2 linked regions of the Homo sapiens genome follow. The protein of the gene in region 2 purifies or fractionates together with the protein of the main gene of each other region. This does not show direct contact. Each region holds a gene or a part of one and is shown on either strand. Other genes may lie near its edges.

Evidence for each region. The genes of interacting proteins can lie anywhere in the genome.
Region 1: the proteins of DSG3 (region 2) and OLFM4 purify together in Homo sapiens (co-immunoprecipitation; one large-scale study listed by IntAct). This does not show direct contact.

What each region holds. Positions count from the first base shown.
Region 1 is NC_000013.11:53,034,343-53,039,334, reverse strand, and holds part of OLFM4 (olfactomedin-4 precursor), read right to left. Parts: intron 4,988-4,992; coding exon 4,835-4,987; intron 1-4,834. UniProt on the Homo sapiens protein: May promote proliferation of pancreatic cancer cells by favoring the transition from the S to G2/M phase. In myeloid leukemic cell lines, inhibits cell growth and induces cell differentiation and apoptosis.
Region 2 is NC_000018.10:31,453,178-31,458,169, forward strand, and holds part of DSG3 (desmoglein-3 preproprotein), read left to right. Parts: intron 1-3,262; coding exon 3,263-3,298; intron 3,299-3,815; coding exon 3,816-3,947; intron 3,948-4,992. UniProt on the Homo sapiens protein: A component of desmosome cell-cell junctions which are required for positive regulation of cellular adhesion. Required for adherens and desmosome junction assembly in response to mechanical force in keratinocytes.

The DNA.
Region 1 (4,992 bases), on a different chromosome or scaffold from region 2:
TGTCTACAAAACTCAGGCATAAAACCTTGACTATGATAAAAATAAATAAAGTGCCAATCCATTACAGAAATGGAAGTTTGAGAAATAAATATGCTTGTTGGCATTTGGCCTTGCCAGCTCTTGGAACAAATGAAACACCCTCAGCTTCTCTGGAACATTTTGGTGGCACATCGCAGCTGTTGTTCTACAAAAATGAGTGATTCAACTGTCATCTCTGCTAAATAAAATGTGGTTCTCCTAGATTTTCACAAAAAAAAGCAAGGCATATTCTGGAGTTTGTTACCTATAAAAATGTGTGGTGTGCCTGCCCTGGTGCAGACAAAATGAAGGGTCTGTAAAGATCCATTTGAGGAAAAAACTCAAGGTTCTTCAGCTGACACTTAAAGGATGCTCAGTGGTGTTCAGGAAAATGGCAATCATCCATGGAGTTAGAGAAGACACAAAAGAGCTTGGGGATGGGCCAGAAAGACTTCAGAGTGTGAACTTTACTAATTTAAGTAAATCATTCATATGAACTTTTCACATATATGAATCTGTAGCTTTGGGAATGCGTGGACAATGCTGACCACATGTCAGCTCCTCCTGGGAGGTGCAGTCTTGGGAGAGGCAGCCCAGCCTGCCTGGGAGCCTCCAGTCCCACATCTGGCACTTGGGGCACTTTCTGCATTTTTTTCTTCTTCTGGAAAATACAGTCATTTGCTGCATAACATTTTTGTCTATGACAGACTGCATATATGACAGTGGTCCCATGAGATTATAAATATCATATTTTTACTGTACCTTTTCTATGTTTAGATATATATGCACACACAAAAACTTACCATTGTATTATAATTGCCTACATTATTCAGTACAGTCACAGGCTGTACAGGTTTGTAGCCTGGCAATAGGCTATATCATATAGCCTGAGTGTGTAGTTGGCTACACCCTCTAGGTTTGTGTAAGTATACAATGACGTTCACCAATGTTAAAATCACCTAACGATGCATTTATCAGAACATGTCCCTGTCTTTAGCTGACCTATGGCTGTATTTTGATCTAGAAAAGTGGTTCTAAATGGAGGGAGGGCGGTAGTGGTGGTGATTTTGTCCTGGTTCTCATAACTGGGGGGTGGGCGAGTGCTATTGGCATCTAAAGACCAGGGACGCTGCTAAACATTCTATCAAGAATATGGGTCTAGCCTTGAGGAGACACGTCCTGTGTCAACATCTTTATCTCGAAGCTCCTCATCATGACAAGTCTGAGCACTAGATGGCTCATCTATGTTTTAGTTGAGCCTTTAAGCCACCAGCCTAACATTCACAGCTTCCATTTTATTTTGCTTGTTATGCACATACTATATCATTGATGAGGAATAAAATTTGTGTGAGCGTTGATTTGAGGGTGCCTGTTATTGTTCCTTATAATTAATGTGGTCTTGTAATAAATAAGGGTGTAGTGCTAGCAAGCTAAAGAATTAATCTGGTTCATGTTTCTGCCAGTCTCTCAAAACCTGTGATTATAACTATGGCCAGACTATTTGAAATAAGTACGTTTACTTTGCAACATACTACTATTTTCAATATATGTTTCAAAGTAAACGTAACAGGGTTCATTGAGCCTGGAGTGATTGTAAAGACATATAAAGTACTTTGGAGCTAGACCCAACTAGACTCAAATCTAACTTCAGTACTTAGTGGGCAAATCACTTAATTTCTTTAACCCTTAGTTTCCTGTAAACTGGGGGTAATGATACTGAGCTTACAAGATTATCATAAAGACTAGAGATAATGTACGTTAAGTGCCTAGTTAATGGAGGCCCTATGAATTATAGAAATTAATAGAGAAACAGTAATTTCAGCATTTTCCAATCTGACCTTTTAATTTATTATATTTCACTATACAAATACGGCTCAATCAATGTTATTTCTTTATGGGTTGCCTTAATGTCTCCTAGGCTGCCTCAACCTTCCCGTGCATGAGGATCTACTAGCAAATGTGTCATATTAAATAACTCATGCCAAAGACCATAAGCCTCCAGAGAAAGAGAAAATCCTGAGCTGCCTTTTGTGCCATCCCTTTCCTAAGTATAGTCACAAAAGGACATACCGTAAACAACAGAAAAGTATAAAATGCTTTCAGCATCTTATGCAGAGGCAGCTCCCTGTCTTCTCTGTGTACTGACAGACAATGAATCAATGTAAGGCAGTCAAAAACCTTTTCTACTGGCCTGTCCTAAACGGGCATTCTCCCAGGCCCCCGGATAAATGACAATTTTCAAGGCAACCTAGGGACAGCTGTAATAACTCACTTGGAAATTCGAAAGCCCTCAGCTAAAGGGATAACTTTGGATTTGAAGGCATTACTACTGCATCTCTTCCTGGGCCTACCTTGGAGGATGCTAACAGCATGGCCAAGAGGAAAGAGAGTTGAGATGATTTTGAAGACTCGAATTCTGACCTGGCTTAACCAGCCAAGAGAGGAATGACCTTGGGCAAGTCTCCTTACCTTTATGAACTGCAGTTTTACTGTCTCTAAAATGGGAGAGACAACACCTGGCCTATCTGCCTTAAAGGGTTACTTGAGAGGAGAGAATAGAACTGGAAGCATTTGAAAAAGCACAAACAAACTGCTACTATTATTGTTGTTATTATCACCTGTCACACTAAATCGATTATATAAATCCTAGCTAGCAGATAAACTTTTTTCTTAGGCCACAATCACAGTTTTTTTGGGATCAGAGCAGCCACCGACACATTCAGAACTAAAACTTTCCCACCTATTCTGCACTTCTTCCCTATCTGTCATTAGCAAAGCAGATGTTACCAGCCCCCCGTACAGTATTGGAATTAAATGTCCCATATTCACAAACCTGGCAAGCCACATACTCTCCCTGGAGCACATAAGGTTTCAAACTGCCTTTCACACTGCTGCCAGCAAAGACAACATGTAAATCAGTAGTTTCCACTATTTCAAAGCAAATGACTCTAACTGAAAAGATCTTTACCTAGGATTTTCCTCTACTTGTTATGTTTTTATGCATAACTTCTTATCTGTACTTGATTATGCTGGAATAAGGCTATGAATATTAATGGTTAGAATTTATAATTTAATGCTGTGCCTTTTCCACTGATTAATTCAAGGACATTATATTTCTTAAGCAGCTAGGTTTCTAGAGTAGTCAAACACATTTTCCTGGACACTCATTTAAACTTAGAATATTTATCTACCAATTCAGGCTGAAAGTAGGGTCTCAGCCTCATCATAATTTTTGTTTTAAAGGATAACTATGTTGGATGTTGAGGTGGCAAAGCTCAAATTTCTTAGGAAAACTTATTCTGAATCTTGCAGTAAAGCCAGAGCTCCTTGTAAATTAATGGAGTTGTATTAAATAATGCATAATGTGATTATAGACTAGCTTGGACTTCACCTGTGCAGAAAATAGGAACTTTTCTAATTGATTTTTAACTTGGGCTGAAAAGGTGGAAGGAGTCAAAACTAGAACACCAAGTCACATTGCTCCAGCCAGCCCAGAGAAAGGCAAACCCTTTAAGATAACTTCCTCTGGCTAAAGAAAAAAACAGTAATCAGAGTTCAAGTCAGTGTTTTTACCAAGGCTGAGAAACCTATTAGTCTTGATTCAAATTCCCAGGGAAGCCTTCAATTTTTGTCTAATATTGGACACATCAAATGTAATGTTCCTGCTGAGACAATAGAAGATAACCATCAAGAAAGAGATGGAGGGTGAGGATGGAAGTGGGGATAGTTAAAGGGTAAAAAATAAAAGTAGTTAGAAAGAATAAATAAGACCTAGTATTCAACAGCACAACAGGGTGACTATAGTCCATAATAATTTCATTGTACATTTTAAAATAAGTAAAAGAGTCTAATTGGATGGTTTGTAACACAAAAGATAAATGCTTGAGGGGATGGACACTCCATTTTCCATGATGTGATTATTACGCATTGCATGCCTGTCTCAGGGTATCTCATGTACCCCATTAATACATACACCTACTATACACCAAAAAAAAATAAGATTAAAAATAAAGAGACTACAACCTTGGATTTCACTTGGAGAAAATAGAAAAAAATAAAAGAGACTACAACTTATTGTCACAAAAAAAGAGAGTGAGGGGGAGAGAGAAGGAAGTGAGCAATTTGTAAAGATAAAAAAGGGTTAAAGGAAAGAGAGAGGGAGGGAGGAGGATGAGAGGGAGAGGATTTGAAGGAGTGGAAGTGGAGGAAGGGAAAAGAAGGAGGGAAAAAAAGATCATCTAAAAGTAAGAAAATACCCAAAAATGTCCCCCCCAAAAAAGAATTAACCAGGAAAGGAAAAGAGAGATTAGAAGGGATGAATAAGGGCAAGGATTGAGGCAAGAGAAATAAGAAACTAAAGGATGCAGGAATGGAATAGAAATAGAAGAAAAGGAAAAAGAGAAGGGAGATAGAATAGAACTAAAGGGGATAGAGGAGAAGAAAGAAAAGAAAGCAAAGCTTGAGGAAAGACCTAGAAGACCAAAAGGAAGAAGCAGCGTCAAAACAAAATAAAAATTGCAGGTTGGGGTTTGCAAGGAGAGCTCAAGGCTTCTTTCCAACTGCCTAAGTACCACAATACTATAGTGAGTTTATCCACGGCGTGAACAATTTGAACCCCACTTTCTTCCTGTGCTCTCATTTTCCCTGCCTTAATAAGAACTCCATTGGTGTCCTATAAAATAAATACTAAAATCACCATAGAATAAAAACGTGATGTCTTTGATAGTGAAGAATGATTGCTTATAAAATCCTAAATTAAAACACATTTTGTTTTGTTTCTCTTTATCAAGATATTGTTTGAAAAGAAAATGCTTACTTTGGAAAGTTCTTTCTCAAACTTCTGAGAAAGAACATGAGCTGTGAATTCCAAGCGTTCCACTCTGTCCACGGGAAAGGTGGTGTCTGGCAGGGAAACAGAGCACTGGCAGGTCCCACGGTCATCCACGGAGCCGGTGAAATTGGAAAACAACTGCA
Region 2 (4,992 bases):
TGACATTTTTCCCAAAAAAATTTAATAAATACAAAATCATGTTTAAAATTTGGACTGATTTATTTGAATTATCTAATTCATTCTACAAATTTCCCCAAGAATCCCCATTCTAGAAATCAGAAGTGTAGTCAGGCCCTAGGCCTGGCTGGGATGAGCTACCTGCATCTAATCCATAGTCTTATGTTCTGTCCCCTGCCACACTAAAGCATGAGGTAACCCCAAACAAGATCTCGGCCAAACTAAAGAGCAGGTGCTATTATACTTGCTTTTTGTTTAATCTAGCTACCCATATCCTCAGATTATATTTATTGTGTACATACCATATTCAATAGGAACCTTAGTGATACAACCATATACATTTTTATTAACAAATAGAGCATATGGATATCAAATTGCTTTATTTCATATATTTTTTAAATTTAATAATTAGATTTGCTTTTGATAATATTTGTAATTCATATCTATACCAAGGCACTAAGGCTATATCAATGCTTTAAAAATCATATAATTAAAATTTACAAAATAACCAGAAAACAAAAAGAAAGAAAAGTACAGTAATTCTCAAGATAAGGGAGGTTTTCTCCATGTTGGTATTTCCAATCCAGGCCACCAAAAGAGACAACTTAGTTCATTCAAATCGTCAGAAAACTATGTAAATATTTATTGGCTTGATTTAGTCATTCCACAGTTTATACATATCTCAAAACAACATGTACATGATAAATATATACAATTTTGTCAATGAAAATAGATTTACAAATAAAAACACATAAATTGTTTTTAAAATGTCCAAAATTATTATATTAGCAAATTAACTAAAACAAGTAGCCATTATATAAATATTAACTAAAATAATTTTTTTAAAAAAATACTATTCTAAATAATGTAAGGCTGTGCTGTCCTCTAAAAATCTGAAGATCATTGCAATATTCAGAAATGTTTCCCATCACCTACTTCCTGGGAAAACAAATATTCTACCTTATTGTGTATTAGAAGAATCATTCTCTGTAGGGCTAGTCCAAGCATGATTCATATTTTCGGGATGACTCTCCAGTTTTCCTGTAAAGGGGAGCCTGCCTGGCCCATCCCTCCTCTCATGTGTAGCTGAGTCATTTTTATGCGCTGAGAAAGGAATTGTGCAGTTACTACATTTATCTGGTCTTTTCTACCAAGTAACTCAAGGTACTGCTTTAAAAAGAGCAACAATGTTGGAAAATAATTTTGAGACATGTTATAACCACAAGTAATGGTTCTTTTCCATGACAAATTTGAACACGCACTCTTTGGAATCAAGGTTTCAGCTGGAATGTCTAGAAGGGAAGAGTCCTGACATCTTATGTCTGACATAATTACTCATTTGGTTCAGACTTGGACTAGTCTATTCATTATAACCCTAGAAAATAAACAATCTACATTGTTTCAAGAGCAACCATAGTCTTTTGCCAAATAGAAATCTAAATTGACTGTCATATAATTTTCTTTGTACCATTAGTTTGTTTTTTTTTTTTTTCTCTTTATGACAACTTTGGTTAGAATTTAGCAGTAGTTGGCTCACACCTGTAATCCCAGCACTTTGGGAGGCCAAGGCGGGTGGATCACCTGAGGTCAGGAGTTCGAGACCAGCCTAACCAACATGGTGAAACTCCGTCTCTGCTAAAGATACAAAATTAGCCGGGTGTGGTGGTGTGCCCATGCCTGTAATCCCTGTTACTCGGGAGGCTAAGGCAAGAGAATCCCTTGAACCCGGGAGACGAAGCTTACATTGAGTCAAGATCGCACCATTGCACTCCAGCCAGGGCAAAAATTGCACTCCAGCCAGGGCAAAAAGAGCGAAACTCCGTCTCAAAAAAAAAAAAAAAAAGAATTTAGTAGTAGTGAGGTACATGCTCTGGAGTTAGGCTACTGCGGTCGCTATCCTATTATGGCCATTAGCTAGGGCAAAGTATTCATTCCCTTGCATCTCCAATTCTTCATCTGTATACTAGGGATTATAATACTAGAATCTCCTTCAGGTGCCTGCTGTAAGTATTACATAAAACAGTAAGTATAAAGCTCTAGGAGTAGCAGCTGATACCGAAACTACACAATAAACATTAGCTACTGTTATTACTCTTCTAGTTTTTTTTTTCTTCTGACTTATTTTCCACCATTATTTTCCGACCAGATTCATCCGATAATCAGTGGATTAGCAAATACTTGTTAAGCACCTGTGAGGGTTACAAGAAAAAAAAAATAACCTAATAGCACTGAACTGGAAAGTTTACAATACTCCTGGCTTAGCACAGAAATTCTTTCATGTGCATAAAACAAGAAATAATAAACTGTGGTAAACCATCATGGGCTAAATTTCATGGTACAGAATATGTGTTGTACAAACTCAGAAAAAGAGACATCAGTAAAGACAATTTCATGGAGGTTGTTGGAACTTGATGGATCTGGAAGGATGAGCAATATTTAAGTGGGTGGAGTAGAAAGAGGTAATGCATGCCAGGCAGAACAGAAGATGAAAAATGACACAGATGAATGTCTCATATGCTCTTGAGAAGGTGAAGACCCTAGCCTACATGGCTTCATTTTACTGTCATTTAATTTTTTGGGGCCACTCTGAAAATTAAGTTCAATATTTAAATTGAAGTAATAGAGCAGAGATGAACAGATCCATGTCTCACTGCAAACAGGGTTTGTGATTGGAATAGCATATCCTCATCTTTTACGTTTTGTTCTCTAAACCAGACTGGTTCCATTCCATTCTTTTCACTTGTACAATTAAAGAAAATGTTCTGTAATTGTAGAGGACTAATACAGGATTGCCTTCCTACAAATCAGTTGGGTGGCTGAAGGTTTTTAATAATCCCCTGTGGCCCCTTTCTGAAGCATTTCACAATGGTGCTTACCAATGTTTCCCAAAGCAATGACTTTCATAGCTTCCAGGAACGGTGTATAAAGCAGCCAGGTAAGAATTGTGTGGTTGCTGCAACTGACTATTAGGCATAGTTTTTGCAAAGTCCAATAGGTTCTTCTTTATGTCATCAAAATTCTGTAGTCAATTAAAAAACTGGTGGAATGTGTTTATATTGACAGTAATATTCCTTTTCCTGGTAGGAACTTACCCTTTGATTATGGCTTCTTGAAACTTACTTCTTTTGAAATAGAAACAAATCACAATATGAACAATAGAATATAATAATCAGGATTATTCATTGTATATAATTCCTTATTTGAAGAATTCACATTTAATTCGACTTTATTTAAATGTCTGCAGGTGGTCATATTGGTTCATGGAGAATTGCGAATAGAGGTAAAGTATGAAAAAGGTTTTTGTACTTAAAATAATAGTTTAGTTTAAAAAAAAATTAAATTGTGTTTAGTAGAAATGAATATTTAATTTCTAAAATTATTCAATAATTTAATTGTGAAAATATATAAAATTAAAATTCTAATAACTGATAACAATATTTTAAAACTAGTCATCCATAAATGTCATTATTATAATTTATTTCATGCATTCTTTTCTTCTTATCTTAAACAAATCAGCTGGTCAAACCCTATGGGCCCAGTAAGATACTGTGGAGTATAAAAAGAAAATATAAAATACGACTAAATGCTAATATTAAAAATCACATAGCTTTGTAGTTATTTTAGTTATTTAACATTTATTACTTGCTTGACAAAGTATCAGGTAGAGCTAATTAGATACCTAACAGTCTTAGTGATCTTGAAACATAGGGGGTTCCTCAACTAGGTGTCTGTAATCAATATTCTAAGCAAAAATTGCCATTAATTTCCATAACAAATGGAATCCCTTTTTACATAAGACTAAAGGTCAATATGATGAAGAAGAGATGACTATGCAACAAGCTAAAAGAAGGCAAAAACGTGAATGGGTGAAATTTGCCAAACCCTGCAGAGAAGGAGAAGATAACTCAAAAAGAAACCCAATTGCCAAGGTAAGTTATATCAACAGGAGCGTATGAGTTTTTAGAATAAATGTATAAGGTGTAAATTAAAATAATACGGCAATTCCAAATAACAAAATGAAGACTGGGGAGTCCACAGAACAAGTGAACTGGTATCCTCAACAAAATAGTACAATAATAATAATAATGAGAGAAAGAGAGAAAGGAAGGTAGCTTCTAGGGTTATGAAAAAGAATTGAGACAAAGAATTGAGACATATTGACCAATTTTAATATAGAAGGCTTACTTGGATACAGAGTCTAGCAAACAAATAGGAAAAATAATGCATGTATAAGACAGAAATGGTTGGGAGCAAAATATGGATTGGTCATGTATTGATAACTGTTGAAGCTCAGTGATAGGATGTATCAGGTTTATTATACTATTCTCTTTCTTTCTTTCTTTCTTTCTTTCTCTTTCTTTCTTTCTTTCTTTCTTTCTTTCTTTCTTTCTTCTTTCTTTCTTTCTTTCTTTCTTTCTTTCTTTCTTTCTTTCTTTCTTTCTTTCTTTTTCTGAGATGGAGTCACTGTGCCTCCCAGGCTGGAGTGCTGTGGCGCGATCTCAGCTCACTGCAACCTCCTCCTCCCAGGTTCAAGCAATTCTCCTGCCTCAGCCTCCTGAGTAGCTGGGATTACAGGCGTGTGCCACCATGCCCGGCTAATTGTTTTTGTATTTTTAGTAGAGACGGGGTTTCACCATATTGGCCAGGCTGATCTCGAACTTCTGACCTCATGATCTGCCCACCTCGGCCTCCCAAAGTGCTTGGATTACAGGCATGAGCCACCACGCCCAGCCTGTTATACTGTTCTAACTTTACATATATTTCACATTTTTCATGTTAAAAAGCTTTAAAATTACAATAATAATAAGTAAATTATTTTAATACATATTTTAACCCTACCATACAATCTCTTTCCCTTTTTGTCTCTCCACTTCCCCCTATTTAAACTAAATAAATATCTTTTGTTTTTTAATGTTGTCAGGTAAAGAGGGAGCCTTCAGGAGTAGCCTTGTCAATATTAAATGACTTTGACTT